2 separate regions of the Homo sapiens genome follow, and region 2 is linked to region 1. Evidence: fine-mapped expression QTL. A gene starts in region 1. The other region holds a variant in brackets. All regions are shown on one strand. Distances are between the middles of the regions. Region 1 holds the start of ANKMY2 (ankyrin repeat and MYND domain containing 2). Region 2 overlaps ANKMY2 (ankyrin repeat and MYND domain containing 2).

The links.
Region 2: its variant is fine-mapped to the expression of ANKMY2 in whole blood (INTERVAL, PIP above 0.99).

What each region holds. Positions count from the first base shown.
Region 1 is chr7:16,637,979-16,654,427 of GRCh38, forward strand. ANKMY2 (ankyrin repeat and MYND domain containing 2) reads right to left here and starts at 7,776. Exons shown (of 10, transcript NM_020319.3): 1 at 7,529-7,776. The coding sequence starts at 7,595. BZW2 (basic leucine zipper and W2 domains 2) reads left to right here and starts at 8,203. Exons shown (of 12, transcript NM_014038.3): 1 at 8,203-8,310. RefSeq lists enhancers at 7,903-8,182, 10,377-10,888.
Region 2 is chr7:16,606,668-16,623,116 of GRCh38, forward strand. It overlaps ANKMY2 (ankyrin repeat and MYND domain containing 2), which reads right to left. Exons shown (of 10, transcript NM_020319.3): 5 at 9,077-9,237; 6 at 3,882-4,096; 7 at 2,963-3,098. It overlaps LOC105375169 (a long non-coding RNA gene), which reads left to right. Exons shown (of 5, transcript XR_007060226.1): 2 at 6,472-6,605; 3 at 9,359-9,512; 4 at 10,709-10,752. Among named protein-coding and RNA genes, the nearest start is that of ANKMY2, 31 kb to the right of the region's middle. The variant C/T (reference allele first, on the strand shown) is at 10,997.

The sequences.
Region 1 (16,449 bases):
GTTTGCCAAATAGCCAACAATCTAAGTTAACATATTCTGTAAGGGAACAATATATTTTAAAGATGATGCATGTATAATGGAAAACAAACTGTTCTCTCCTGCTTAACTCTCACTCAATAGTCTCAATCCTTCACTTCTGACACCAGATATATGGGGTTTCCCCCATAAACACCAAGCAATTCTCCATTGGACACCAATGGGGTATCCTATAATTTAACTCATTTCTAACATTGTTTATCTAAAGTTAGTCAGATCTTACAGGTCAAGGGCTCAGTCCACAAGACCGTCCCCACTTCAGATGCCAATCATAAGCCCCTGTACTTCTGACTGGCTATAAATCAGGGTTCCCATGATCCCCTCCTCAGGTTCCATAATTTGCTAGGACAGCTCACAGAACTCAGGGAAACACTACTTACATTTACCCATCAATTACAAATAATATTACAAAGGACAAAGATGAACAGCCAGATGGAAGAGGGGCAAAGAGCAAGGTATGTGGCACTTGGCACAGAGATTCCATGCTCTTTCCAGGCACTCATTCTTCCAAGAACTTCCACGAGTTCAGCAATCTGGAAGCTCTCTGCAACCTGTAGTTCAGTAATATTTATGCAAGCTTGATTACATAGGTGTGACCTATTATTAAGTCAGTCTTCAGCTCCTCTCCCTTTCCTGAAGATGCGGGGAGGGGTGGAGTTGAAAAATTCAACCTTCTAATCATGGCTTGGACTTTCTCATGACCAGCCCCCATCCTGAAGCTATCCAACAGTCGCCTCATTAGAACAAAAGACATTTCTAACGCCCAGGAAATTCCAAGGGATTAGAAACTCTGTGTCAGGTACCAGGGTCAAAGACCAAATATTAGAACAATAGATGCACCTAGCACCCCATTGTTCAGGAGATTATAAGGGTTTTAGGAGCTCTGTGTTAGGAGCCAGTGGCAGAGACCAAATAGATATTTCTTATTATATCCTACATGTACACGTACCCACAATCACACTAAGGTTAGCCTTTTGAAATGCAGGGGCTGGAATGAGAAAAATAATCTGAAACAGATTGGGCTTCTAGAGGGTAAAAATAGATTTGGAACATGGATGAGCAAAACACTCCAAGAGGAAAAACTGTGATGATTTCCAATTCGGTGTTCACAATGTAATGACATTAGTCGGAAATTATAGAAGGTCCAGAATAGCATGGAAATGTGAAACACATGGCTCACACAGAAGGATTTTTACTTTATGTCATTCCTACTGTCCATAGTAGACTTAAATAATATTTTACAAGTAAGTGTAAAAGATTAATTGCTTTATTCTGGGAAATAAATATGTTAAATCTGATTTAACAAACTGCTGGGGGTGGAAGATAGAGTACTATAAGAAGGGATGTGCAAGGAGCCAACATTTACCTTCATTGGAGATAAGAAACAACAGACCTAAACTAATTAAAGTAATAATTAGTGATTTATTTCCCTTTAGAGAATTCCTCCAACTGCTCAAACCAAAGAAGAAAATACAGCATAACCTGCCTCATTAGGGTGGAATTGATCACTTTATCTGGATGAACAAGCATTTTAGGAGAGAAAAGATTATGTACATAATATTTTCCCAGCATGGACAACATAGTGAGACCCCATCTCTACAAAAAATTTTCTAAAAAATTAGCAAGGTGTGGTGGCATGGACCTGTAGTCCCAGCTACTCAGGAGGCTGAGGTGGGAGGATTGCTTGAGCCCAGGAAGTTGAGGCTGCAGTGAGCTATGATCATGCCACTGTAATCCAGCCTAGGCAATAAAGTGAGACCCTGTCTCAAAAGAGAATGATATTCTTAGTGTTACTGCTCTCTCTTCTACTACATTATAGCTTTTTCAGGAATACTATAAAGTGGAACAAGACCTGCAAAACTTGGCCAGGCATGGTGGCTCACACCTGTAATCACAGCACTTTGGGAGGCCAAGGCGGATGGATCACCTGAGGTCAGGAGTTTGAGACCAGCCTGGCCAACATGGTGAAACCCCATCTCTACTAAAAAAAAAAATACAAAAATTAGCCAGGTGTAGTGGTGCGTGCTCGTAGTCCTAGCTACTCAGGAGGTTGAGACAGGAGAATTGCTTGAACCCAGGAGGAGGAGGTTGCAGTGAGTCAAGATCGCGCCACTGCACTCCAGCTTGGGCGACAAGAGCGAGACTCTGTCTCAAAAAAATAAGTAAATAAATAAATAAAAGTAAATAAAAAGACCTGTAAAACTCTCAGTTTCCTTATCTATGAAATAAGGATAACAATATCCATCCCACAGTTATCTGAGGAGTGTCCTAATGTGGAGCACATATAAGCCTTTATTAGATCTTCTTTTTATTTTGTATTCAGAGCAGCACAATATAATTCATTGTAACATTTCTAATATCTAGATCGGGAACACGGGTCTCTACCAAAGACAAGAAGATGCAGCCAAAACAAACAGAACAGGAGAAACAAACATTCTGTTTTCAGCAATTCATCACACAACCATGAGATTCAAACACGTATAGATTTCAATCGTTATTCATTATTATTGTTTTAATTTTTTATAGATACAGGGCCTTCCTCCATCGCCCAAGCTGGAGTGCAGTGGCATGATCATGGCTCACTGCAGCCTTGAATTCCTGGGTTCAAGCAATCCTCCTGCCTCAGACTCTTGAGGTGCTAGGACTACAGGTGCACGCCACCGCACCCAGCTAATTTTTACATTTTTTGTAACAACGGGGTCTCACTATATTGAGACCCAGGCTGGTGGCAAACTCCTGGGTCCAAGTGATCCTCTTGGATCCTCCCAAAGTGCAGAGGGGTCACTCTACAGGCATGAGCCACTATGTCCAGCTGGATTGCAATCATTATTTATTGGAAGCCACGAAAACGGATATTTTAAGGAATATATAATCAAGTTAAGGATTTAGAAATCTATTTGGCTTTGTTAGTTGTTATAGTGTTTACGTATAAGTAAAATCATGTAAAAATGTTTAAAGTGCCTTAATTTTAAAACAAGAACATATGGATATAGATTTTGATATAATCATAGATATAAAGCTATAAATATATTTTAAAAGTGAAACCCCATCTCTACTAAAAAGACAAAAATTAGCCGGGCGCGGTGGTGCACGCCTGTAATCCCAGCTACTCAGTAGGCTGAGGCAGGAGAATTGCTTGAACTTGGGAGGCAGAGGTTGCAGTGAGCCGAGAGCGCACCATTGCATTCCAGCCTGGGTGACAGGGTGAGACCCTGTCTCACACACAGACACACACACACACACACATAGTGGAGACTTCTAATTATAACATGCATTTTGAAATCGTGAATTTGTGCGATGTTTCTAAAAGGTCTCCTACTCATATCTATTTTTAGACTTTGTAAAAAAATGATCTTAAATTAGTATTACAGAGCACTGTATAAAATTGGGAGTATCTAAAAGAGCTGTTGCTGTGAAAATGAAGACAATGAAGCCCATATAGGTTGCATAACCTGTCCAGCCATCCAACTAATGGTAACCATATATTTTAATTTTTTCTTTGAACTCTGTACTATAATTGGTTATAAGCAGACTTGAATGTTTCTCAACCATAAAGACACCAGAAGTATTATTAACGACACAGGACCTTAGAACAGGATCTTATTTCAATAGTCCCAAATTGGAAACAACAATTGGGCATCAATGGGAATGGATGCACAAATAGTAGTATATCCTTCCACTGGAAATAAAAGAAGAAAATAAGCTACATACTATTGGTACACATAATAAATATGAACCCCAAAATCATAATGTTGAATGAAAGAAGCCAGCCCCCCCTCAAAAAAAGGATACTTATTGTATGATTCTACTAATATAAAATTCTAGAATAGAGAAATCTAATCAACAGAGGCAGAGATCTGTTAGTGGTTGCCTGCAGATGGGGGTGAAGTTAGTGACAGATCACAAAGAGGCATAAGGACTTTTTAGGGGGTGATGAAGATGTTCATTATGTTGATCTTACTGATGGTTTCACAGATGTATGTTTAAATCAAAACTGATTAAAAAGTGTGTACTACCTGTAATATGTGCAATTTATTGTATCTCAATAGTTGGTAAGAAAAAGCCTTATTATCCAAACTTGTTTCATAGCTCCTTTACACAGATATGAAAAAAAAAAAGGAAGTATAATACTTTCTTGTTAGCAACAGTAAGCCCAGGAATTTCAGGTACTAAATAAGAGAAGTAATGTGAAAATTATCTAGCTCATAGCCTTAAAAAAGGTTTAATTTATTTCATAATAGTGCTTGCTCTGAGATTAATGAAAAAGGTATCAAAGCTTAGAAGAATGGGTAACTCTACAAGTCATATAAGCCAGTTAAACACAGTTCAGTGATTTCAATTTCCTCTTACATACTGTTAAATGAATGCTGTCATTAACTATGATTTAAATGGGTATGTTGGAAACAGATTTTCATTTTCATCTGGAACTTCTTGGCATTCTAATAAATAAAAAGCCCCACTTAGAGTCTGTCTTTCTGGAGAGCAGTGGCTGGCAGATGGGAATCACTTAAATATTTGCCGAGTTTATTTCAGATTGACCAAGATGCCAGGCTAGACTTTGCTGAAAAGTTGTTAGTTCAAAGTACTAGAACTTATTGTCTCATCTAGAGTTTTTCAAAGTTGAAAAACGTATGAAAGAAAAAAAAAAAAACTCACTTCACCCACTTTAAAAAAAATGCCTCTTTTTGGCACAAATATAAACTTTGCTTATGGCCTTTCTTCAACTATAAAATAAAAATTTACTTTAAATTTAATGCACACAGAACTACAAAATCAGTAACATTTAAAACTGAGTTAACTTGACAGATGTTGTTTTGCTAGAACTAAATGACCTCTCAAAGTGAATATTGTATGGACTGCTATGGTACTGTTTCATGTTTTGTTTAGTTTGTTTTTAGGTACAGCCTGTTTATTACCTATGGGCCCTGTGATACCTCTGCTCTGCCACTTTCTGCCACTTACCTGTTTGACACTAAGTTTCCTAACTTCCCAGTTCCTCAGTTGCCTTGCCTATAAAGTGAAGATTACTATATTTATCACAAACACAAGCAGTATTTCGAATGCTTTAACTATACTAACTACTTTCATCCCCATAACAACGTTGTGAGGTGGGTATTATTATTATTCCTATTTTTCACACAGAGGACTTGAGGCTCAGGAAAAGTCACTTGCCCAAAGGCCACATCACCAGTAAATGAGTTAGAATTTCAAACCAGACCTGCATGGTTAACCACTATCCCATGCTGTCTCTCATACTGTCATAGCTTAAAATTAATTCCTAGCTCATCCAAATTAAATGCATTAATATATGTAAAGTACTTAAAATTATGTGTGGCTTGCAATAACAGTCAATAAACGTTGGCTATGGTTGTTTTTCTCATATCTCCCATTACTTTTCTTTATGAGTGCAAGTGATGTCCCACAGACCTTCATTTGACAAGAATGCATCACATACTAGGTCCACATCAGTTCTTTTCTCATTGGCATGGTCCAATGAAAGCGATGAAAGCATCAGTGCACTCATGCAACTTGATGCACCGTGTGAGCCCAGAAATATCACAGCACTAACCAGAATAAATGCACATTAATTCAGGTTTATATAATCTTCAAAATAAATACTGATGGACACCTGAGAATGTATCCAAGGAATCCCTTCTCCCCTCTCAAAGACTCAATTTATAAAACTGCTCACTATTTTTCACTTTTAAGAGATCACATGATGGGCCAGGCCCAGTGGCTCATGCCTGTAATCCCAGCACTTAGGGAGGCCGAGGCAGGAGGATCACTTGAGCCCAGGAGTTCGAGAGCAGCCTGGGCAACATAGGGAGACCCCCACCACCCCATCTCTACAAAAAAAAAAAAAAAATCTTTCTAAAGTAGCCGGGCATGGTGGCTCGCACCTGTAGTCCCAGCCACTAGGGAGGTGGAGGCTGCAGAGAGCTGCAACTCCAGCCTGGGTGAAGAGTGAGATCCTGTCTCAAACAAACGAGAGAGAGAGAGAAAGAGACAGCGAGAGCGAGAGAGAGAGAGGACATGTACTAGCTCTGTCCTGCCTAAAAGAATTTTTGTCCCTGGTGGATTGTGAATTGATCCTTTGTCTCCTTTTTGCCCAGCACAGTACCTGGCACACAGCTAGAACTTGCATGTTTGCTTAATTGAATCCCAGAGCCATCAAAGGCAGGGAGAAATTACCTAGAGACAGGAAGAACTGAAAGACTGAAATGCCAAATAGGTCAGCAAGAACCATGCAGTACAACAATCTAAACTCTAACCCAAATCCCCAAATTCCAGGCAAAGAACACATCATTGATAGATATAGCTGTGACTGACTTAGAATAGTTGAGATCAGATCGGGTGGGCTCAGCTCATCAGCACCTGTTGAGTTCAAACCGGAATTTTTTCTCCTTCGCATGTGGAGTTTCCTTGTCGCTATGAAGAATAAATCTGCCTTATTCTCTAGGATTCCACATTTCAGCCTGGCTACTAAGTAAATAAAACTGGAAACTGGGAAGCCTTATGCTGCAATGACTGGCATCTCTGCCATTCGAGGACAAACATGGCTATATTATTATTGAGTTTAAAATCACCACATTAATTGCCCGGAGTCGCACGCATCACCATCCCTGCACCGTGAGGGTGCAGAAGAAGCATGCAGTCACGCTGATGTCACCTGCCAGGTAACGGGACTCGGCAGGGAACTCCTCTGGGACGTCCACTCGGGGACTCCGGGGAAATATGGCTTCTGGCTCGTCCTCGGGGCTCCCCGCTGGGACTCAGCACTGCGGAAGTGGGGCACGCCTTGGGGGAGTGGACAAGAAAGCGCGAAGGAGCGCGATTAGAAGGTCTCATCTGTGCAACGTGGGCCGAGGGGTGGGTGTGGAGGCCTCGCCAATTTCCTTGTCTCTCTAGGGTTCCTGAGGCTGTCGGGGCTTCTGGAAGCCAGGGAGGCCCTGGATACGGAAGTCTCAATGCAGCAAATTACAGACCTAGTTCTGTACCCTTATGAAGAACCCCTCTCCCTAAGGGCGCCCTCCACTCCCAAGCGGGGGCGGGGATCGGCAAAGGATCCAGATCATTCGGCCTGCGGAAGTCTAAAGGGTCATTTAGACACCCGCCTAAGAACCTGAAACTACCAGGACTGACCGCGGTCAAAATCCCTCGGGAGCAGTGAAGAATTCACACACTGGGGTCCACACCCCGGGAAGCTCGCATTAACCTAAGGCGGGGCGTGGAAATCCGTACGTTTCCAAAAGCGGATTTAGAGGCCGAGCCTCTGTAACTACCCCTCTTGTCCCAGCACTGCTTCTGCCTCCCCACCTCTCCGCCCCTGCAACCTTTCCCAGACCAAAGGGAGAAACGCTCTTTCCCGGTTCCAGGCTGCAAACCTTGCAGAACCGCAGCCAAAGGTCACCCAGGCCAGGAGCGCCCCCCGGGCTCCGCCACGCCCCCCGGCCAGGCTGGCCGCGGCCGCGTCGCAGCCCAGCACCCGTACCTTTCCCGATGACTTCCAGTAGCTCCTTCTCCTCCTGGGTCAGCTCGCCTTTCTTTATGTGAACCATTGCTCCCGCCAGCTTGAAGGTTATTCCCTTTCTTAGGGAGTATTAAAAAAGAAACGATGCGTCTGTATTGGGAACGCCAGCCGCAATGAGGCAACTTGAGACCAAGACACTGAGTAGCCAACCGCGGAAACGCTTCGCTTCTCTCCTCCCTCCCGCGGGCTGGCGGACAGCGGGCGAGCTCGGGCGAGCCAGGCGGACGGTCTCCGCAGGCCCTGCGGCGGTCACCGCCTGCCGCCTGTCATTGGCCCTGCCGAGGAGGAGGAGCCGCAGGAGGCGGTAGCGAGAGATCGCCATTGGAGCAACCTGGGAGGACAAAACCAAATGCAGAAAGCTGGAGGGGGGAATTAAATTCCTCCTACACGTTCCGCTCCCCTATCCTGTCCGGTTCAAATATTTCGCCACATGTAATATTGAAAATTCTACAGCTGGCAGTTATGTGCTCAGCGACGGCTTTCTGGGGCATGCAGAGGCCCCAGGTTGTCGCCGTACCCCCACCATTCCCCCGGGAGTGGCGCAGTCTGGGCGGGGGCGGTCTAGGAGACGGGGGCGGTACGGGAGGCGGGGCTGCGCCGGGTTCCGTGTGTCTATGTCAATGTGTCTGTCCTTCACTCCTCCATTGTCTGCCGCCACTGCTGCTGCTGCTGCTGCTGCCGCTGCTGCTGCACGAATCGCCGCAGCCCCCAGCCTTGCGCGTCGTCGCTACCTCCTCGGACAGGTGAGAAGCAGCCCAGGTGAGGCAAGGGGCGCCGTGAGGGTTGCGAGAGTAGCGACTGCCGCCCCGCCGGGGTTTCCATCGGGCAGGAGCTGGCGGGGAGGAAGCATGTGCCTCCTGGGGCGGCTTCCTGCCTCGCGGTGGAGAAGCCCCCGCTCCACCTCATCATCACGGCGCGTACGGGGTATCAGTGCCCTGGGATGAAGACCTCCGACTCGCAACGTTTGGCCGCCTCGGGAGACCCTGGGACCGCGGGCGGGCGGGCGGGGGCCAGCCACGCGGTGGGAAGTGGCGGGTGCACATGGTCTCGTGCGTGGCACCGCCAGATGCGGCTCCCGGGGAGGCTGGGGCCGGGGCTCTGGGCTAGGTAGGGGTCGCAAGGACAGCGCCCCATTACTAGCGAGTCAGTGAGAACAGACTCGGGAGAAGGTAGTTTTTACGCTGGTGATCCTCGCCCTCCCCACTACTTGTCATCTCTTTGGCCTCTGTGGAAGCTGTAGAAGAAAACCTGATCGCCCAATGTTGCTTGTTAAAGATGTTTGGAAACAATTTACACTTGCACTAATACTTCGTTTATGAGAGACAGCCTGTGGGAGGGGGAAGGAAGGGCTTCTTTGCTCTGCTAGAGTTCTCGGTTCTCTTTGTAACTCAGATCTTGAGATTTATGGAAATAGGGAGTGGAGGGTGGGGAGGTTGGAGAGGGCGGAGATTAAATTGGTGTTGCTGCCTATATATAGCCTTAGATTAGCCTCTTAATCCAACCTTCATTCAACTGTAATATGTAGCCTGGAGCTTCGACCATAGGTAGATGGGGGTAAATACAAGTGTGTATTTCAGAATAAGATTTGCTTGCTAAAATGCGGGAATCAGTCATTTCTCCAGGGTGCAGATTTATATTTACATCATCAATGAAAGTTTCTTTGGAAATTAGTGTTTATGTTTTACTGTTGTTTCCCTACAGAGTAGTATTGATGTTTCTCTCAATATGTGTGTCAAAGAGACGTGTATGTGTCAAAGAGAAATATTTGAGTAATTATGTAGGTGGTTTTTGTTAAGCATCCCCAGGACCACTGTTTCTTCTCATAGCGCCATACGAAAAGCGAAATGCATTTTCCTCTGGCCTTAGGCATTTATTTTGCGTGAAGCTTTCACTAACATCTGAAATCTCCTGGAATATGTTTATCATTATTTCCTGCCTTTAGCAAAAATCTTTCCTAAACTCCAGCTGTTTTTCCCCCCTAAAGCTTCAGCATTAAAGACTGGGACAGATCTGAGCCAGAACATCTTACATGAAAATGGTTTGAAATTATTCATCTCAGTGTATAACAAAGATACTTTTGTTGGATGATGCTTTAATAATGATGTGGCTGTTCAAGCAAGTAGTAAGGCTCCTGAGAGTGACCAATCTTTTGTAATGCTGTTAGTTCAGAGTTACAATTGATTTATAACATAGTATCATGCGGAAGAAACCCACAAACCTAAAAAAACAGTTGAGTGGTAACCTCCTGGAACATGTGATTTAGCATCTTACCAGCAGATGCATACACATAATTGGGTACTTCATTGCTAGTATTTCCATCTCTTGTGCCAAATCTGGGCCATGGTTACTTGAAGGTCACACCTGTTTGTCTCACTGGGGTTGTCAGTTCCTCGAGGATAGCAGCTTACTATCTATTTTCTTGATGCCTTATGACACTTGGTTGGTATTTAGTGCTCTCTGAATACATGACCAGTGAATTTAGAGACAATAACGTTGAAAGAGAATCTAACATCTACCTAGAAATGCAAATAAATCATGTTCAGTTTACATTTCTAGAAACAGATTCATAATGGGTACTGTTCATTAGATGGATTGATTACATTAGTAGTTTTGTATGGTGTAAATATTTAATGTAGGGATAAGATTAGATAATGAGCATATTAAAACAGATTCACATCAAAGAAGTTTTATTGATAATAAGATAGCTACTTCATATTGAGTATTTAGTCTGTGCTAGATATTCTACCAGATGCTTTGCATAGAATTATTCTAGTGTTATGACAACCCAGGAATGAGCCAATATTATACCCACTTTGCAAATAAGAGGACAGAAAGTAAGGGAAATAATTTGCCCACAATCCCATATTAGGAAGTGTCAAGTCAGAATTGGAATAATGATTTCTGAAATGTTTGAAATGTTGTATGTGTCCTCTCATATCTACCACTCTAGAGCTATTGCAATGCATCTTAAGTAGCCTGCTTCTCTCTCACCTGTCTCCATCTAGCTAATTCAGGGAACTACCAGTTCAATAAACATTGAGCACCCATCATTCTTTGAATGGCTCTCTGCTGGCCACAGAATAGAGGGCTGGGTCTGGCCTGGAAGGTTCCAATCCATCCATGGTCTCAGCAGGCATTTCCAGTCATCTGGGCCCTCCCACACACTGGGCTCTAAGGTCACCACTCTGCTTGTTCCCCAACCTGCCGGTAATTTCCACCCCTTTGTTCCTGCTTTTCTCCTCCTCTGAATGATTTCCCTTCCCTTTTCACTGAATCTCCTCTCCAGATCTGATGAACTATTCAACTTTCCAGACACAATTTAAACAAAACCTCTTTTCTTCAGCTTTTGTGTTCATCTCTCCCTCTCTATCCAGTAAGGGAAATATACATGCTAGTAAATACATTTATTCATGTCTCTTGGCAAGGGTTATAAGTAAAATCTTTGTACATGGAGGATATTGATATGCAACATGGCTACTGGTATCATTGCTGGCAGCCTTTAATTCTCTCTTCTTATGGATTCTAGCGACCCCTCTTTTACCGCCCCCCTAAATTGACATCATTGCTTCTTCATCTGAATCTCCATGAAAATACCTAAAACAAGCACTTTCTCATCGCATTCTATTATAGTTATTATTAATCTGTTTGGTCCCTTCTCATTCTACAGTATACATTAACTAGGTCAAATTTATCTTTGTTTCTCAGGTTTAACCCAGTGTCTTGCACCTAGTGTATGCTCAGTACAAGCTGAGTTGAATTCAGTTTGATTTCTAAGTTATTTTAGGTGGATTTGTTTTCCTACTTGACTAATCCTTCCTGGCAATGTGAGGTGAGGTGGCACTAAGCACGCACAATCATAACCAGAGGCAGAAAGTCTTTAAATGTTTTGGATCTCAAGCTTCTTGACATTCTGATGAATGCTATCAACCAAGAAAAATTGTTCTTGTGCACATGTTACAAATTTGGCATGCCATTCTTAGATTTCCCCATTAAAGACCCTGATTTCCAGCTCTCTACATTAGGAGAATGCTGCCTTTTTGTTGCATTTTTGAGTATTACATCTTTCAGGGTACTGTTTGTCTTGACATTTGACTTTTTTTCCTTAGACTTAGGTATCTTTATTGACTGGATATTTGATAATAAGAAATTTTGATTTTTTTAAGTTGGAAGTAGATTACGGTTATATTTTTAAAAGATTACTTATCTTTTAGAGATAGGAACAGAATTATTTCAGAACTGGATGAGAAGACAGCTGAGATTTGCTTTAATATAATTCTGTGACAGAAAGGAAGAGAGACTGAATGAGAATATAAATGAGATAAAATTGACTATGTTAACAGTTGAAGATGGGTGATGAGTATATTCACTTGATTATACTGTTCTCTCTACTTTTGGATATATTTGAGATTTTCCATAATGAAGTTTTTAAAAAGAAAATTTGGAAGTATTACAGCCTCTAAGAAATCTTTTTTTTTTAAACACAACATAAGAAAGTAATATAAATACAAATGTTCTTTTTTCTATACTTGGAGTTTCGCTTATGTGATTATTCATTTAAGTGTTAAAACAGTTACACCTAAATCTGCAAAGAACTGTCTTGTGAACAATGCGTTTCCATAAACATTTGACATCACATTTTAACTTCTCCAAAAAGTAAAAGGTTGGTGGCATTACTCAGTGCTTGTAGAACAAATTGATGAATATCTTACTGGTAGTTAATCTTCATCTTTTTTGAAAAGAAAATTCTGAAGAAGGGGTACAGATACATTTAGTTTAACTGAGAAAATCAAGAGGTGAATGAAGTGGAGATACTGATGTTCTTCTGTGCGTCATAATCCAACTCAGAAGGCATTCCAAAAAAAAAGAGTACCAAAACTGTTTCGAGCAATGTCAGCACTGATAGGATAAGTATTAGTCTAGGAAAATCAGGAGCAGGCCCAGGACAGGGTGTGACTGGTAGGTTCTTACTCAGTGTTTGCTTAGCTGAATACTTAATCTGACACCTACTTTCTAATTTGTGCAATTTTTTAAACTGATTTTTTGATCTTTACAATTTTTTATTGTGTTTTAGATATATTAAATGTCCTTTATAACATGTCATCCTAGACTTTGGGATTTTACAAGAATATTTAATTAATATGAAATCCACCAATCTTAGCAGGTCATAAACAAGAATACTTTTCATTCTTAACTCACTCATTTCTGTGTATTGAGGCCATGGCGCTCTTTAGCAAGTATCTTTTGGGCAGTTAGGTGCCGAGTGGAATGATTTGCCCCGTTCTAAATTTGGCGTGTATTAAGTGAAGAGTGCCAAAATTGTTCAGGTAGTCATATTTGTAAACTATCTATTTTGAAAATAAAGATTTGAATAACTCATTGAATGAACCATTCTTTAAGGTTAAATGCCAAAAAGATAATGTTCTCATTATTCTTTCTTGATTTTTAGCAATAGGTGTTTCCATTGATGTTTTTTAAGTTTATTCAAAAATTAAAGGAAAAAAGTATAATGACAAAAAGAAAGAATAATGCCCTGTATTAATATTTAAGATAGTATAATCCTTTGGCTATCTTTAATTCCATTCTGAAAATATTAATATTTTAGTAGGAAAACAATAACTTAAGATGTAGAATTATTTTTTGTGTCAGATGTAGCATTATATTTTCTTTTTACATCTCAACTTATTTTTATGCTAGATGAGAACTTTAAAAAATATAACAGGTGTACTGTTATTTTTGAGGACTTCTAAATAAATCTCAAGAAAAGCCCTGGGGCAGAGATGAATAATAAGGGATAATAACGTTTAGCACTGTAGAGAATATATCATAAGCTACTATTGGATGATATTCTACTGTCATCCTTTTTATATATCCACACAGAAGACTTTAATGGTTTTCAAACTAACCTGGATTTATGGTCATTTCTAAGAAGAAAAAAGAAATGTTATATGTTTTTCTCAGTGAACAAGGTAATTGAATGGGACTATTATAAACAGGAAAGAGAACCCCTAGTTGTCGGTGCAGAGGAAACTGCTGGCTGGAGGAAAAGGATGCGGTGTTAGTATTTGGGAGTGTGAAGATTGTGTTTGTGTTAGAGTTGAGCTTCTGCAGGAAACAATTTAAAAACTGTATCCTATAGTGCTAGAAATTATGGTGCCATAAATTTTCTAATATTCGTATGTCCCTAAGAGGCAATATTGTTAAATTCTCTCTCTAAAGATAAATGCCTTTTCCCCCCCACCGCTTAATAGAACTCTATGGAGAACTCTTTGGTATTTTGGAAGTAACATATGCTAATTCAATTTATCCAAGTGCTGAACTCAACTTTAAATTAATATTTATGCGCTACTCCATCTTATTCCAAACTATAAAATTTATGAGGCAAATAATGAAAAAGCTGTCTTCGAGAATCATATAAATAATTCTCTAAGACATTGCAACAGCTTTAGTTGGCTCCTTGGAAAATGCACTGAGTGGAGACAGTGGATCAGGTTCTGGCCCCAACTCTTCCATGTACATAAGCTCCAGATGGGCAGGGATCGTTCTGCTTTGATCTCCACTGTCTTACCAATGCTAGAATGGAATTCCTGACCTCAGCCAAGTGGTTTGACATCTCAGTGCCTTATCTGAAGGTTAGCTTAGGGACTGGGCTTACATCCATGGTTTTCAAAGTATTCCATTCCGCGTGGATGCCACTTGTAAGTTACAAAGTAAAAAAACACGCACTTAATTATTAAAACGTTAATAAACACAACTGCATCTCGAATGCATCATATGTTGTCTTTAAACATACTGGAGACAATCAGTGCTTGCTAACTTGTTCTGCCCGATTGTGCAATACTTGGAACAAAGCTCCACCTGCTAGAAAGTGACCTCCATGAAATTTGCCTGATTTAGTGCTTGCTGCATCCCTATTGACTAGTACCAGACCTGGTATATTTGGCAAACAAATAAATGAATGATTCTCTGTAGGTTTAAACCTTTTTCTTTTGAGACGGAGTTTCGCTGTTGTTGCCCAGTCTGGAGTGCGATGGTGTGATCTCGGCTGACTGGCTGACTGTAACCTCTGTCTCCTGGGTTCAAGTGATTCTCCTGCCTCAGCCTACCGAGTAGCTGGGATTACAGGCGCCTGCCACCATGCCTGGCTAATTTTTGTATTTTTAGTACAGACGGGGTTTCACCATGTTGGCCAGGCTGGTTTCGAACACCTGACCTCAGGTGATTCGCCCGCCTTGGCTTCCCAAAGTGCTGGGATTACAGGCATGAGCCACCATACCTGGCTTAAACCTTTTTAAAATGTATGATTCAGAGAGCTTGTAGCTCTGTACTAGTTCTTTTTTATTTCCTTTAATTCAATTTTGTATGGTCCACTTCTGTAAAGTTGTGTTGGGGAATCCAGTCCCATGTCATCAGCGTGCCCTAGACTAGGCTTGGCATTTCTATCCAGTTCATGCTCTCATTATGTAATAAGCATGCATATGGAAAGTAACTTTGTGTGTGTGTGTGTGTGTGTGTAGCCCTTCAAATAAAGCTTCACCTGCTAGACAGGCTTGGGCAGGTCCCCTTCTGGGAGGATGGGAGTTTCTTGGTTGAGAGAACTAGTAAGTGAGCCAATATTTGGACTCATGCCCACCACCACCTTTGAGCTTCCTGAAGGTCCACTATTACGATTTTTAAGCAATTGCTCCAAAACAGAATTCTCTCACTGTCTACCAGTCTAGGCCTTACTTTTCTTTTTATTTCTTTTTTTTCTGAAGATTTTATTTTCCTCTTTTCCATGATTAAAAATCCTCTGAAGAGAGGCAAACACTTCAACACTCTTTTACTTTAATAACTTGTCTTCTGACTTCCCACTGGAGTAATAGTCACCAACACTCCCATCAGTTTTGTGTCTGTCTTAAACTAACTTGCTCTCTGGCATTGCCACTCCACTTCTTGCTGATTTTCATCTCCTGGTTCTCCTCACCTCAGTTAGCAAGGCCAGTGTTGTGTGTGCTGTCCATAGCTCCTTTCCTCTAGGTGGAAAGTAAATCTCATATAAAATCATCTTTCTCCTCTACTATGTAAAGCTCAACATGTATTTAGGTATCTTCCAGTGAAAAAGCACTTTTCTGGAGGAAGGAACATTGGAGATGAGAATACTCATTAATAATAAATATTACTTTTGTCTTCAGTGGAGGTGAAAATCTCGAATGCATAGGCATTTTCTAAAAGGTTACATAGGATGATGTTAAAGGGTTTAAATTATTATCATCTCCATGGAGTGGGGCTAGGATATAAGGTCAAGAGTGAAAGATTGGGAAGAGCACTACCCTTCTGTACTGTGTTGGGGTTTTTTGTTTGTTTGATTTTGTTTTGTTTTTGCCATCAGTGTGTTATTACTTTAAAGTTTTAAATCACTAGTTAAAATAATATAGAGACTGGCTGGGCATGGTGACTCATGCCTGTAATCCCATCGCTTTGGGTGGCCAAGGTGGGCAGATCACTTGAGGCCAGGAGTTCGAGACCAGCCTGGCCAACATGGCAAAACCCCATCTCTACAAAAAAAAAAAAAAAAAAAAAAAAAAAATACAAAAATTAATTACTTGGGAGACTGAGGCACGAGAATCCAAGGGAGGCAGAGTTTGCAGTGAGCTGAGATTGTGCCACTACACTCCAGCCTGGGTGACAGAGTAAGACTCTGTCTCAAAAAGTAATAATAATAATATAGAGACCATCTTGCTTTTTTCTAAGCTTAAAATTATAATATTATTAACAAATTTCAAGGACATTTCCTTCTCTATAAGAGTTTCTGCTTTTCCTAAAGTGATGCAATGGAACAGATGACTTTTAAAATAAAGATTCAGAGAATATCACTGAATCAAGTTATATAACTCCAAGTCCAA
Region 2 (16,449 bases), 31 kb before region 1:
CTTACCAACTGTACATAATAGAGGTTTAAAAATATCACCTGGTAACAATGTCCTACACTGTTCTGTATACTCAAGATAGTCAAAGAAAATATTCAAAGATTCAAGAAGTATTTTAAAAGTAGCACTCATTTTGAAACTACCATGTTCTTCTTGAATACAAATAATAATGACTGGGTCTGCTTTCACATGAAAGTGCTACGAATTCTCTTTTGTGCTGAGCCTTGAGACAGGCAGAAGCCAGAGTTCCACAGCAGCAGAGGGAACCAAAAGCTGAGCAGGAGGGCCCAGGCATTAGCACTGTCAGAAAACAACACAGTGAAGCTCACAGCAGCCAGCCCTGAGAACCATCGTATGCGGGGAAAAGGTTGGGCATCACTTCAGAGGGTTAGAACTTGCAGAATATGAAAACCAATTAGGCAGTAAACAATGGCTGTGATACGCACAATCACAGGCATTTGGGATGAAGTCTTCCAGACAGAAGAACATAAAACTCTCAAAGAACAAAAATGTTTAAAGAAAAGTCTTTCTAAAATGCATTAAATACTATCTTAACTTTATTATAAACCTTTTCTTGATGACTCAGATCACTGGGATAAACATTAATCATTATACTCTAGGCCGGGTACGGTGGCTCACGCCTGTAATCTCAGCACTTTGGGAGGCCAAGGCGGGCAGATCACTTGAGGTCAGGAGTTCAAGATCAGCCTGGCCAACATGGTGAAAACCCGTCTTTACTAAAAATGCAGAAACATTAGTCGGGCATGGTGGTGTGTGCCTGTAGTCCCAGCTACTCGGGAGGCTGAGACATGAGAATCGCTTGAACCCGGAAGACTGAGGTTGTAATGAGCTGAGATTGCGCCACTGCACTCCAGCCTGGGTAACAAAACAAGACCCCCCTCAATAAATAAATAAAAATAATAATAATTATACTCTATAAACTCTAATTACATTATTCTATTATATGGAGCTAGGATAACTTGTTGACCACAATATTGACCTGCTTTTTTTTTTTTTTTTTTTTTTTAAAGAACTCTGGGTTGCTGTTTTAGTTTTTCTGTTTTTTCCCAGGAAGGTAAAAGGTCAGCAACCATTTGTGAGTGCTGGAAATCCCACATAACAGGTACTGCTAGTTGCTTCTCTGATATCAATTCTCCCAGCTTCCTCAGTAACAGAAGTGTAATTTTGTTCAGAGGAGGAGTGTTTAGAAAAGCCAAAAAAAAAAATTTTCCTGGACTCCTGTGTAGCTAAGGAAAGTCATGTGACACAGGCAGAGGGCTTCTGGGAGAGCTTATGTTTTCCAGATATAGACCCCTTTGCTCTTCCTGCCTGCCTGGGATAGGAATGTGAGCTGGAGGAGGAACATCAAATGCCTCGTAACCATGAGATCATAAGTATGCATATGAGAACCTACACAGCTAAGGAATATTGGAAGGGAAAGATGAGAAAGTGTTTGGGTCCCCAAACTATTTTTAAGTCACTATGCCAGACCTAGTCTGCCTACCTTTGGGCATCTATGTATATGTGAATACATAAACCCTCATCTATTTAATTCATGGTTGGTTGGGCTTTGATATGTGCTGCCAAGACACATTTGTAATTGACAAATCATAATTTGCTAACTTTATTCTTCCAAAAGCATAAACACTAAATAGCCAACTATATTAAAAAGTATGAGTAAAGAAACTCTTGAAAATAGGGGGAGCACACATGAACAAATTAATGCATGAGCTTTATGAGATGGTCTTTTCTGCTCAGGTCTTTCTTGTTTATTTTATGGCTCAGACTAGGTGAATTCTTAATGTACAAAGGAGCATCTGGAGCCCACTTGAAGCCCTGATGTTCCACACTGAGAATGACATAACAACCCAGAGAGAAGGCACAGAGAAGGGAACCAGATTTGCCAGAGGGAGGGAGGAAGCCATGGATGGGACTGGTCTTAGGATCAATTTCTTGCCTGATAGACAAAAGCTGATCAAGTTTTTGATTGAAACGTATAAAAGCATGAATGGGTATAGATAGGGTAAACAAAAACCTATTCAAAATAGAAAAGGTGGCTGGGCGCAGTGGGTCATGCCTGTAATCCCAGCACTTTGGGAAGCCGAGGTGGGTAGATCACCTGAGTCAGGAGTTCGAGACCAACCTGGTCAACATGGTGAAATCCCATCTCTACTAAAAATACAAAAATTAGCTGGGCGTGGTGGCGCGCACCTATAGTCCCAGCCACTCAGGAGGCTGAAGCAGGAGAATCGCTTGAACCTGGGAAATGGAGGTTGCAGTGAGCTGAGATTGTGCCACTGCACTCCAGCCTAGGCGACAGAAACAGACTCTGTCGCAAAATAGAAAAGGCCAAATAAATTAAAATATATGACAAATGAATAGTAAGTCATTTAAATAACAGATAAAGTTAACAAAATACACTTATATAGTGGGTAAGTATAAATAGGTTGTAAGTATGGACATTTTCTAATCAGAGGCATTAAGGTGGATTATAGGAAGCTGAGGCATACTTTGAGATTGTTACCAGGAACCACAATGAGCCTTCCCATGGCTTATCCCACTACATCCCCACTGCCTGGACACTATCCCCCTAGGTGATCAATTCATACTTGCATCTAGTGTATGACTTTGTGCTGATAATTCATATAGCTACAAGTGTACATGTGTGTACCTATATTACATAGTGGATGTACTTAAAATGTAAGTTTCTACCCTAACCATCTACATTTCAACATAGCGACGTCCTGTTTATGAAACTATGAACCATAATAAGGTAAGAAGAGGATCGTGAGATGGGAAATAAATAAACAGGAACAGGTTTGGCAGGCAAACCTATCTCCACCTTTGTTCCTAAAAATATTCTGAAATAATAAAAATAAATATTAAAGAGAACTTGCCTTTAACAATACAATAGGTGGGAATTAGGTTTTACTGATAGAGTCAACTTAGGTAAGAGGAGCCTTACAATTTCAACAGGAGCAATGCTTCGAACCAGCTGCTGGAGGAGTGTAGCTTCACAGTAAGGAAATTTTCTGATACTTTCTCTAATGATCTTTTCTTGATACACTGGAAAGCCATCAGAAGCTCGGCCTTTTAACAAGCTGAAAGATATTTTTTAAAGCGTAATTGGAGTTGAATCACTAAGCATTCTCTCCTAGTTGAACCCAACAGTTTTTAGTAGTTTCTTCTGTTACTTATGATTTTCTTTGTCTCTTCAAATCATGATGACGGGCTCAGTTCAAATTGCTGTTCAACCTATATGTTAGGCTAGGCCTTATAAGGTTTTCCAGCCCATTAAATGAATATGCAAAGGTGACTACCACCATAAAACACACTAAACACTGTTATCAGATTAGCTAGTTACTTATTACCATGTCAGTTATTTGTACTAAGAATGAAAACTCTCATAGAGCCACACCCTTCAGACTTAGTTCCCTTTTCTAGGTAAGGATGCAAGAGAATTTGATCTCTGGTGGTCAGAGAAGCAGCATAACACACAGCTCTCCAAGATACAGTAACAGAGACACCCTGGATGCCATTACAAACCTAGGGCTGCGACCTAGGGCATAAAATATTCTCAAATTTGGACTTGGGCCACTTTCTCGCGGTGTGATCTTACACATGTTATTTAACCTCTCCAAACCTCAGATTCCTCATCTGTAAATTGCTGGTAACAACAAAAACATCACAGTAAAGGATACAGAACTGAATAATCACTCAATATAAGTATAATATTATTCTCTGTTTGTCAAAGACTAAATGTGAGTCCAACAACAGCAATTGCTGCCAAAATGTTTAATTTTGAAACACATAATAATGAGGCTTCATATTAAAAAAAATATTCACTTGAGTGTATTTTATAAACGACATAGTAAAAAGAGTACCTTTTGATCAAGGTGTCCAGTTTATTCTCTCCATCTTTTAAGAAGTTAATGCATTTCTGAAAGATACAGCTTATGTAATGCATCTTCATAGCCAATACTTCATTCATGTCTCTTTGCTTCATACATTTCTCACAAATCAAATCCATCACTCTGTAGCATTTATTCAGGGCTGCTTCTTCTGTCAGCAGAGGATTCTCATTTACAAGCATCACGATCTAGAGGAAATCCCAGTGTACTCAGGTATTAAAGGAGACACTTGTTCATGTACAAATTAGGTAGTCCATTTAGTTGATTTCAAAAGATTACCAAAGAAAGCCTTCCTTAGGATCATGAAGTTATTATGTTATTTGTTAGAATGCAAATTACCCAGAACTTATAGAACTAATATAGAAAGACCCTGAAATAGTGGAATCTCTTGAACTCTGTATATCAAAGTTATAATGTGATCTTCCATCTACCTACACCACAGTGCCAGTATGCCATTCAAGAGCACATGATTTTACAGTCTCTGTTAAATTCACTTTTACTAAAGATAAACATGACAAATTTGTACATTTTACATAAAGAATCAAATCATTGAGCAATAACCACTTTTAGTTAACATTACTCAGCTCTAGAATTTCATGGCTAGGAGAACTACAATTCTCATTAATTCTTATTAAGCACAAGAAAATGAGATTTTTTCAGAATGAAGTCTAAAAATGAAATATGCTTTACTTTCCAATTAACTATATTTCTCTATGGAAATTTTCCTGAAGATGCTTCCAATCATCTACAGTAATGAGAACAGGTCAAAGAGGAAGCCATAAATAACTTTAAAGGGGAAATATTAGAATGATCAAATCTTACACGTTATGAGTCCCACATTTCCTATGTATGCACAGATTATGCTCAAATTTAGTGTAATATGGAGTATTTTTGTATTAGCTTTGTTGTAGGGTAGATTATTTGAAGTAGGTCTGCAAAGGACTGCTGTAAATATCCATGGTGGCATAACAGTAATGTAAACATGAATGTGAGAGTGGCAGGAGGCAGCCAAATGCCTAGAGAGAATAGGGGTGGGTCCTTGGTGAAGCCCCACTTCCAAGCCAAAGACAGTTTAAAGCCTGAAAGCCAAGCTACAAATTAAATCCTTGAACCGGATTGAGAACTTGTCTTCCTGTTTGACTCAATTTCTTCTGATTGATCCCCACCCTTCACCTATTTTACATACACCTACCCTTTCCTAACTGGTTTTCTACACTGTTGTGCCCACCATTGAGTGGTGTCTTCACTTTAACCTTTTTTACATACTCACAAACCAATCAGCATGCACTCCCCTTTCTGAGTCCATAAAAGGACCTGGACCCAGGCACATGGGGCACTTTCCCGCCTTTGGGTAGGGGAACCACCCTGCACTGCGTCTCCTATTTGCTGAGAGCTTTCCTTTCACTTAATAAATTTTACTCCACTCACTCTCCAGTGTCCACCTGTCTAATTCTTCCTGGTTGTAAGACAAGAACTTGGATCTAGCTGAACTAAGGAGCACAAAGACCACAACAAATGTAACAGGGACACAACTGTATGCACAGAGCAGACAGCCAGTCAGTACTTGCTAACCTACCTGTTACAGCTAAATCAATATCCCAGGGACTATACATGTCAGGGAACAACAGGTAGATTTCCTGAATTAGATTCTTTTCTTTAGGCATGAAAAAAGATCATCTATTAGTAAAGCCCATAGCTAGCCCTCTAATTAGAAATTTAACACAGATTAAATGTCCTTGTAAAATTAAACGAATTTCACTTTTTGACATTTATTAGATTTATACACAATCTAGTGTTTTACAAAAATCCAGCACTTAATAATAAGTTATTAGACTTAATGAAGTAAGTATAATCAGAATCCTTATTGATAACTCTCTCTACCAAAACATACTTTGACAATTTATGGTGGAGAAGAAAAGACTCATTAATTATCTGTTTATACTTCTGCTAATTGTAATCATTTAAAGTTGTTTGATCAGTATTTTTATATATGGCATTTATAATCAACTATAGAATCTTAAACTTACAAGTGAGAATTCTTTCAAAAAATTTCAAACAGAGCCCAGATTAATAATTTTTTGTTTGGAGACATCAGACCTTATCTATGTTTTAATACACAGCACAAATATACACCAAGAAAAATGACAAATAACCACATCATTAACATGCGCTTATTGAAACAACTACATAGCTGCACACAAAAGAATAATATTTGTACTTGTTTCCTTCCTTAATCTCTGCAGCATTATGAAGTAATATATTATAAAGGAAATCCTTTTTATTAATTAATGAGGAGGAGCAAATAAATATATTTCTATTGGCATTAAAAACTAGATAAATTTTTACCATTCAAAGGATTGCTACCTGAGAATATGTTTATGTAGTGGCATTTTGAATTCTTTTTATTTTTTAAATCCTATTTTTAAAAACTGCTAAATCTACAATACTGGGCTTGAAAATCACAATAATCAAAGACATGATTGTTCTGTGCACATCTGCCTCCTGTACACTTAGAGACCCTGCTCTGCTGACATTTTTTTCTGTGATTTTGTTTTTCTCCTAGATAACCTTCATATTCTGGGCATCAGCACAATCCTCCAAATCCCTTTTGAAAACAAATGCATCCTTATTGCTACGGCAGCCACTTAATCTAGACACAAATACAGCTATATTAGGTGCACTGTAATGAAAAGTGAGGTGTGTATTGGGGAGAATTTCCGAGGTTGTTTTAAAAGCTGTTTAACATTACACAGTGGTTATTAGTTTTTAAATAATACTCCATAGGAAATGCCATGCTAGCTTAAAAAGGGGGTAGAGCAATAAAAATGGGCCACAGTAACAAAAGCAACTGGGTGGCTTTTAGATCCCAAGGGTGGATAAAAGAAAAGGTTTCGAGCGAATAGATTGTTTATACCTACAAAAAGCAAGGTCTGGTCTGGAGGAAGGTATATAATAGGATAGCCCCCTTCATACTCCAAAAAATATTATGTAGTCTATTTCAGACTATATACCTTTACAAATTATTGTCTGCATAATTATGCCCTCAATCTAATTTACTTAAAATATATACCTTCAAAGATAACTGAAGGTAGAGTATTAATAATTATTAGGACATTTAACCCTGAAAGACTGGGTTCCAAGTAAACATAAAAAATTATTCCATAAGCCTGGCCAACATGGAGAAACCCCATCTCTACCCAAAATACAAAAATTAGCCAGGCGTGGTGGTGGGCACCTGTAATCCCAGCTACTCAGGAGGCTGAGGCAGGAGAATCGCTTTAACCTGGAAGGCCGAGATCTGTACCACTGCACTCCAGGCTGGGCGACAGAGCAAGACCCTATCTCAAAAAAAAAAAAAAAAAAAATTCCACAAACCCTTACTGCAATCTGAAGAGGCAGAAACATAGATATGAAAGACAGTGAATCAGAAAAGTACAGGGAACTTCTTCAAGTCAGTCTAAGCCAGAATATCCTGTATTGCTCAGGCAGTGGAGGAACAAGAGTCTTACAGAACCACACACATTCTCTACATTGAGAAATACTGTACCCTGACAGAAACCTGTCTCCCCATCCCAGCCAGCCCATGCCTGAGAGAGTGCCATGGACAGAGGTCAATGCTTCTCTTGGGAGTTCTCTTTTCCCTAGGTATGCTGGGAGGGAGAGAAACAGTAACACAGAAGAAAATACATATTTTTTAAAGGTTAAATTCTAAGCCCTCTGTAATCTCCACTAGAAACATGAGTATGCAGTTCACAACTGAATTTGCCCACTTAGTATCACAAGTGTTGCCTCTGGCAGTTCTTCCAGAATATTAAGAAAAACTCTGAGTTTTCTAAAATAAAAATAGCAGATTCCACTCTTCTGTCTGATGGGAAAGGTATCTACTAGTTTGTCATCTCTCTTAAGGGCCTAGAAAATTAATTTGGGTGGAGGAACACACAATGAGTAAATTTGGTTTGTTTCTCAACCTTCAAGTACTCAAGAAAGATGCACAGGGATGCATCAACAAAGTAATAAGATTATACACATTTTGGATCTTATATCTTTGAGTGAGTGTCAGTCTTCAGAAGAGTCACCTTATAAGAACTGTCCACTCATTTTCATGATGCTCAGCAGACTCCACAGATTCTTCTTTCGTAATAAACTTCTGGGGAAATCTATTTTACTACATGATAGTAACGCCTTATGTTAAGGAAGAACCTTAACTTTTGACACAACTTAGTATCTTGCTCACTTAAACAGCTCTGAACTACTATCAAATCTTTATGAGTAAAAGCATGTGATAGATACTGAAATTGAAATAGGACCTCATCACTGTAGCACACATGTAGCTGTGTAGTTTTCTGTGATGATTATTGAGGAAATTATACTTGTTTAGCTGGATTTTTTTGAAAAAATTATGTGTAAACAACAACAGCAAAAGCCTGTATTTTTAAAATCTGGAAGACAATAGCAGTGAAATATTTCAGAATAGCTCTTGAAGTTTCCCAGTTAAGCCATTTGAACTTATGTGTTGGCCTATGAAATTTGAAAATCTGATTTGATGAATTACTGGAAGAACTATGTTATTTAAAGGCATCAAATAGCCACTTAGTTTAAAAATGTGCTCATGATTACATTTCAGAATCTTTCTTAGAAAGACAATTATTGTAATAGATGCTGTTAGTGCCCCCACATACATCCTTTTTACCAGGCCTGTATACCAGGCCCCCGGGGCTCTCAGGGTCAGCTACTATGGTCTTTTCTCCAGAGGACTACCCTCATTGAAAGGGAGCCACCTCACTTGGTACTATGTGGGAGGCTGTCCTTTCCCTCTGGAGACAGGCCCCACCCAACAACAGACTGATGAATACAAAAGAATTCCTTTGCCTCTCTGGAGCCACTCACACTCCAGAGCTCCCGGTGGGATGAGGTGGAAGCTAGGCTTCAGCAAACCCATCTCTTTGCGTGGCTTTTCCTGATGGTTTAGTCTGTTTCTCTCTCGCTCACTCACTTCCAGGTTTCAACGGAGAGTGTTCCTTCAATAAATTAACAGGCCAAAAGAGCCCACTGCAAGCTCTACAACTACAAAACCCACCCCAAGACAATTATGATCCTGTATAATAAAAGCAGTTTAAACTCTGAAGCAATATTTACATAAAAAGCAAATACGGTAGACACCACACTACCTTGACAGGATGAAGATTCGTTGTGGTGATAATTTTGTGCAGCGGGCCTGCCAACTTTGGGGGCAGTTTTGGCTCTTTATCCAGTCCCTGGGGCTTAGTGTAATAATCCAGTCTCTCTCGAGGAAAGAAATTGTTGATTATGGTCACACAATCATGTTGACCTTTTCATAGAAAAATAGAAAAGTTGTAGTTTTAGTATTAAAAATAACACATCTGGTTTTTAAAATTAATTATGTTGCTATTTTTGTGATGTAAACATGCACCAATATCTTTATTTTTCAGGAAAGGAGAGTAGAGGAGGAGGAGGAGAGATAAAATATTTTAGAGAACATTTATAAACATTCCTTGTAAAGTTGATAAACAATCTTTGAAAGACACAGAATCCAAAATACATACGAAGATTATGTGGATTACAAAAGAAAGCACTGCTCAACTTGTAAGAGACCTTAAGTATTTTCTAACAGTTGCTTGTAAGTTAAATGTCTCTTCTTCCCAGCCTACGCAAATGATGCTCATGTTTCCCTAATCACATCCAGTTGTATTTACACAAAATTTAAATTTACTCCATATAAAGTATTGTTCTTACTATAATGATAATATTAAACTAAACCCCCTCCCCCTTATCCCCTACCCCCTAAATTTGAGAAAAGCTTGCCCTCTTTGTGAAATGTAGAGAAAAGGCTTTCGCTCCCATAAGCTTGGAATCCACATCGTGGCTTTGCATAGAATTCCAAGCCACTTCTCTAAGCCATCTCTAGTTAAAAATGGTTCTATGAAAGCAAATTCTTCCCTAGCGAAGCTGCTGGTTTGCAAGTGTGCTCCTGCGGCGCCCCCCCCTCCCTAGCTCCCTCTCCACTACCTCTCTGGAGCAAAGCAGTGGCCACTCTGGGCAAGCAGGCAGAAGCCACAGGGCACACAGGAGGGCGGGCGCAGGCTCTTCCTGGATCTCCGGAGGAGACTTCTTCCTCCGCTCTGCCTGATGAGGGCTGGGGGACCAGCGGAGGCGCGCCTGGGGAGAGCGTGCAGACGCCATGGCCCCCGCTCCCGGAGAGTGGTTCCCCCTGGGTAGCCTGCATGGCCCCTGCCTGCTTGTGCTTGGTCCTGGGAGCGCCTGCTTGATCCTGCCGACAACAGGTGACCTGCGTGGGGATGGCACTGTGGGCCAGCTGGACGCTGGCGCTTGAGGCTGGCAGAGGGCTCTGCTTGTCCCTGAAAGTTCCTGGGAGAACCCAGGAGTGGCAGGCTTCATCCTTGTGCCTCAGCTGGTTTGCTGACCAAACCAGCTTAATGTCTCAATTAAATGGTTGAATACTTTTGATGAGACATTTTAGAACTTTTTTTTTTTATGGGAACACCTATCTTTTTATTGAAGCTCGATGTAGATTTTGTTTTAAGGAAGCATATGCAGTTTGTCTTCATCTTCCCTGGTTTCTTCATACACATTTCTAAATTTCCCCACAGTTACCTGTGTTGATTTTGATGCTGTATTCATAACCCACTTGCATTAGATTTGCTTGGTTGAATGTCATTTTTCTCTCTTCTTGAAGATTCTATAAGGAGAGTGATAATTTTCTAAAGTAATTAATTAATGTCTTAATTGAGACATTAAATTTTCTTCTTCCACTGATCCAGGACCCTATCAGCTTTACCTGACTTCCTGGGAGGTACAGAACAAGGTACGTATGGGGATCCAGCAATTCTGAAGACTACGCCATGCCTCCAACAGAGGGCTTCTTGGGTTGAAAGTGTGTGGGTAACATTTACCATAACAATAACTACCACAACTACAGCTAATAAATGCACTTAAGCAGATTCAATTATAATATATAAATAGACTTTCAAGAGCCGCAGAGAGATTCAAATTTTAAAAATTAACAGGCAAACTGAAAGAGGTGATCCTGGTTACTATTGAGAACTAAA[C/T]TAGTAACACAGAGGATGAAGGGCAGGCATGGTGGCTCATGCCTATAATCCCAGCACTTTGGGAGGCTGAGGCAGGAGGATTGCTTAAGCCCAGGAGGTGCAGACCAGCCTGGGTAACACAGCACAAACCCGTTTCTACAAATAATTTAAAAAATTAGCTGGATACAGTGGTATGTGCCTGTAGTCCCAGCTACTTGGGATACTAAGGCAGGAGGATTGCTTGGGGCCAGGAGTTGGAGGCTACAGTGAGCGTGTTTTTTTTTTTTTTTTTTTTTTTTGGGTGAGACAGAGTCTGGCTCTGTTGCCCAGGCTGTAGTGCAGTCACGTGATCTTGGCTCACTGCAACCTCTGCCTCCTGGATTCAAGCAATTCTCCTGACTCAGCTTCCCAAGTAGCTGAGACTACAGGTGTGTGCCACCACACCTGGCTAATCTATTTTGTATTTTCAGATGGGGTTTCACTATGTTTGCCAGGCTGGTCTCAAACTCCTGACCTCAGGTGATCTGCCTGCCTTAGCCTCCCAAAGTGCTGGGATTACAGGCGTGAGCCACCATGCCCAGCCAAAGCTGCAGTGAGTTTTGATCACACCACTGCATTCAAGCCTGGGTAACAGACACCCTGTTTCAACAAAACAAACAAAAAAGATCGAGTGGATGAAATATCTCAAAACAGAAAAATTCAGATATAGAAATCATTATACAACAGATGAAAGAGCTAAAGAACAAATCCAGGAAATCTAATAGTGAAAATTAACAGACATCTCAAAGGAAAAAAAGGAATAGATGGAGAATTAAACAAATGATAAAAGAAAACTTCCCTGATTTGAAAAGAGAATTTAATAGTGATCACAATACCATTTTTGGTACTCTATGCTTTTATTAAGTACCAGAACACCCAATTTCTTTCTTTTTGGGGGGATTCGGGGAGGTGGGTATTTCTTTTATTTCTTTCCCCAGTACATACGTCTTGAAAAGTCAAACAGTAGCAGTCTATATTAAAAATGTGAAATGAGCCAAGGTGCTCTGTTTAGAAAATGATCACCTCTCCTTCCAGAATCTTCAAGAGAGAAAAATGACATTCAACCAAGCAAATCTAATGCAAGTGGGTTATGAACACAGTTATCAAAATCAACCCAAGTAATTGTGAGGAAATTTACAACTGTATGTGAAGAAACCAGAGAAGATGAAGACAAACCGCACATGCTTCCTTAAAACAAAATCTACATCCAGCTTCAATAAAAAGATAGGTGTTTCCACACACACACACAAAAGTTCCAAAATAGCTCATCAAAAGTACTGAACCAGACATATGAAGACTTGAAGATAAAGGAGTCAGAGAAAAATAAGGAATTAGCTTATAACTGTATCTTCTCATCAGTCCTCCAACTAGTACAATTAGGAAAAGCAGGCAGCAGGTAGAAATATCTGTACATAAAAATAATTGCTACATAACAAAGATACTGTCACAAGACTAAGGATTTCTTTATTATACCTTTTTTTTTTTTTTTGAGATGGAGTTTTGCTCTTTTTGCCCAGGCTAGAGTGCAATGGCGCGATCTTGGCTCACCGCAACCTCCGCCTCCTAGGCTCAAGGGATTCTCCTGCCTCAGCCTCCCGAGTAGCTGGGATTACAGGTGCCTGCCACCACGCCCAACTAATTTTGTATTTTTTAGTAGAGGCGGGGTTTCTCCATGTTCATCAGGCTGGTCTCGAACTCCCAACCTCAGGTGATCCGCCCGCCTTGGCCTCCCAAAGTGCTGGGATTACAGGCGTGAGCTACTGTGCCCGGCCTAATTATACCTTTTTAAAAAGAAAAAATAGTATTACTTTACCTTTTTTTCCAGATTAAGGTTTTTCATTTTAGGTAATGCTTATTTTGATATTTTATTTTAATTAATCTGCTAATAACATATTTGAATAATATGTTTAAAGTTTATCTTTGTAAATACTTAATCATTTAGGTTTAAATGTTTGTAATTGAAATTCTTAAATATTTTACTAGTTTTAAATTTATAAATTCTGAATATACATAAATAAAATAATACTACTAATATAGAAAATAAATGCTGCAGGTGGAGAAGCCAGTACATCATTTTGCTCCCATATTACAATCACTAGATTTGAGTCCTCTAGACTTACAGGGCTCACTGAGTGTGATTAATAGGAACACACACATACAACAAGACGTATCCTTTTCAAATTTTTTACTTTCAAGGATAAACTGAAAATCAAATGCTCTTCCAGAATGAGAAATGTAAAGTTTACAATGGAAAGTAAGTTGAATTCTCATTTGCAAAACCAGAACTTAGAAAACTGTAGAATAACTTCTATATGTCGGAGAGAAAAGAACTCTGATATGAGTCAGAAAGCTAGGCAAAATATGACTCACATTTCAGAAAGAAAGGTATTAATAGTTTTGTCATGATGGGTGTCAAAGAATATACAACCTACGTAACCCATTTGAAAAGGTCCTATAACCAAAATCTAAATGAGAACAGAGATCTAAAGACAAAAATGCAAAAATGGAGACAAAGGGGAGGAGAGAGAGGACAGTAAGAGAGTGAGTTCATATGAGTGGGTGAAGATAGATGACAGGCAAATCACACAGCTGGTGGTATGGATTACTGAAAGAGAAGCAACACCCTGTCAATGACACTCTCATTACAGCTTGTGCTAAAAATACTAGACTCTCTCAGCAAAGTCCACAGCTACAGGTATGATTGGCACAGGTTTTGAGGAAGTATCAGAGAAGGCAGAAAGGAAAGACCTGTGGCCTGACAAGGCAAAAACAGAGAATGTGGAGAAATAAATGAAGTATAAGGATTTCATCTTATAAAGTTGCTAAATGGGTAAATATGGGGCCTTGGGGATGGGGTATGTGGTACTGTACAGTTTTGACCAGCCAATCACTTTAGGGAAATACATGTGTACACACACACACACACACACACACACACACACAGATGCATGCACAAACAATAGTCAAGTAAAATAAAGAGTAAAAATGAGGTAAAAGAGGAGGAATGCAACCACATATATCAGTAATTACATTAAATATACATAAGCTAAATACCTGTTAAGAGAGGGAAACTAACATTTTAGATTACAAAACAGAACCCACCTATATGTTTATAAGTTATACTACTTAAATGAAATGATAAAGATTGAAAATAACAGATGAGCAAACAGATCATTGACAAAAAAAGGAATTATGAATAGCTGTAATATCAGTAAAAGTAGAACTAAAAGAATTCAACAAGAAAAAGAGTGACATTATACAATGATAAAACCAATAGCAATATATTAAAAGTGAAAAGCTAAAAATATTTTCATTAAAAACAGGAAAAAGACATGCCAATTATCACTATTATTTCTTCTTACTTGGCCCGAAGCAAATTCAAATAGAAATCAAGATAAAGTTTAATAGCTAGAAAACGCAGTAAACTGTAATAAAAATAAGAAAAAAATACAGAAATCAATAGCTTTTCTCTTTATTATCCATAACCAGCTGGAAGTGACTGAGTGTGGAGGTGGTAGTGCAAATTCTTACCATGTGGACAGTAACCACAAATTACTAAGAAATAAATTTTGAAAGAAAGGATTGATATGAAGGAACCAATTAAATATTACTGAAAGACCAAAAGTCAGTCCCCTCCCCTAAAAGAAATGTAAAAGTGTACTGTGTAATTGGATGGAAAGTCCTAACCTCATACAAATGTTAATTCTCTGCAAATAATTATATAATCATTTAGTAAAAGAGAATTTAACTTACCACAAAGGTGGTATTTCAATTTAGTAGGAAAATGTTAGCTGGTGTAATAAATGGTGCCATCACAATTAGCTATATATCTGGGGGGAAATGAACTCTAAACAAATAAATTCTAGATGTACCAAAAAAATCATAAAAAATAACTGAAGGATATTTAGGAGAATACTTATGTAACTCCTGGTCAAGAGGCCCACTTTTAGCAAAACAAGAAACACGGAAGCTATAAAAGAAAAAATATGACTACTTAAAAATAAATTTCCTGCCGGGCACAGTGGTTCATGCCTGTAATCCTAAGGACTTTGGGAGGTGGGACGATCACCTAAGGTCAAGAGTTCGAGACCAGCCTGGCCAACATGGCTAAGCCCCATCTCTACTAAAAATACAACAATTAGCTGGGTGTGGTGGCACATACCTGTAGTCCCAGCTACATGGGAGGCTGAGGCAGGAGAATCGTTTGAACCCAGGAGGTGGAGGTTGCAGTGAGCCGAGATTATGCCACTGCACTCCAGCCTGGGTGACAGAGTGAGACTCCATCTCAAAAAAATAAATAAATAAATAAATAAATAAATTTCCTATGGTAAAGGTCTCCATAAAGTTAAAAAAGAAGAAGAAGAAAGAAGGAAGAAGAAGAAGAGGAAGAGGAGGAGGAAGAAGAGGAATAAAAAGAAGAAGAAGAAGGAGGAGGAGGAGGAAGAGGAGGACTGGCATAAAATATTTGAAACACATTTGTTAGATAATGGATTTGTATGCATAAAGCTCCTCAAAGCAATAACAAAGGGCATCCCCCCACAAAAAAATGAATAAAGAGTATAAGTGGGTAATCCACAAAAGTGAAAATACAAATTACCAACAACAGAAGTGCTTAATTTCATAAATAATGAGGGGAAAGTAAGTTCACAATGTACCATCTTTTTAACTATCAGAGTGGCAAAAATCAAAGAATGGTAATACTCAGCTCTGATGAGGATATTACTGTGAATTACTATGCCCTTTTGGAAAGGAATCTAGACTTACATTAAAATTAAAACTCTAGGCTGGTCGTGGTGGCTGTAATCCCAGCACTTTGGGAGGCCGAGGCGGGCAGATCACAAGGTCAGGAGTTCAAGACCAGCCTGACCAACATGGTGAAACCCCATCTCTACTAAAAATACAAAAAAAATTAGCTAGGCGTGGTGGCGCACACCTATAATCCCAGCTAGTTGGGAGGCTGAGGCAGGAGAATCACTTGAACCCGGGAGGCGGAGGTTGCAATGAGCTGAGGTTGGGCCACTGCACTCCAGCCTGGGCGACAGGGCGAGACTCCATCTCAAAAATAAATGAATAAATAAATAAATAAATAAATAAATAAATAAATAAAAATAAAAACTCTATATCCTTTGTCTCAGCAATTTTACTTCTAAGAAATACTTTAGAGATATTAAAGTTCTAACATGTAAAAAATATTCAAGTACTAACTTGTAAAACATAGAAAATCAAGGATGATTATTACATTATTTGTAGAAAAGTGGTTAAAAAACTGTAAAATCTGTCAATAAGGGAGAGCTAACTGAACTGTGGAACATCTATATCATGGAGTATCATATAGCTGTTGAAGGAAATGAATTACACCTACTGAGATGGGAGGAACTTCCATGATGTATTAGTAAGTGAAGAAAACAAGCTACAAGGAATATCTGCTGTGTGAT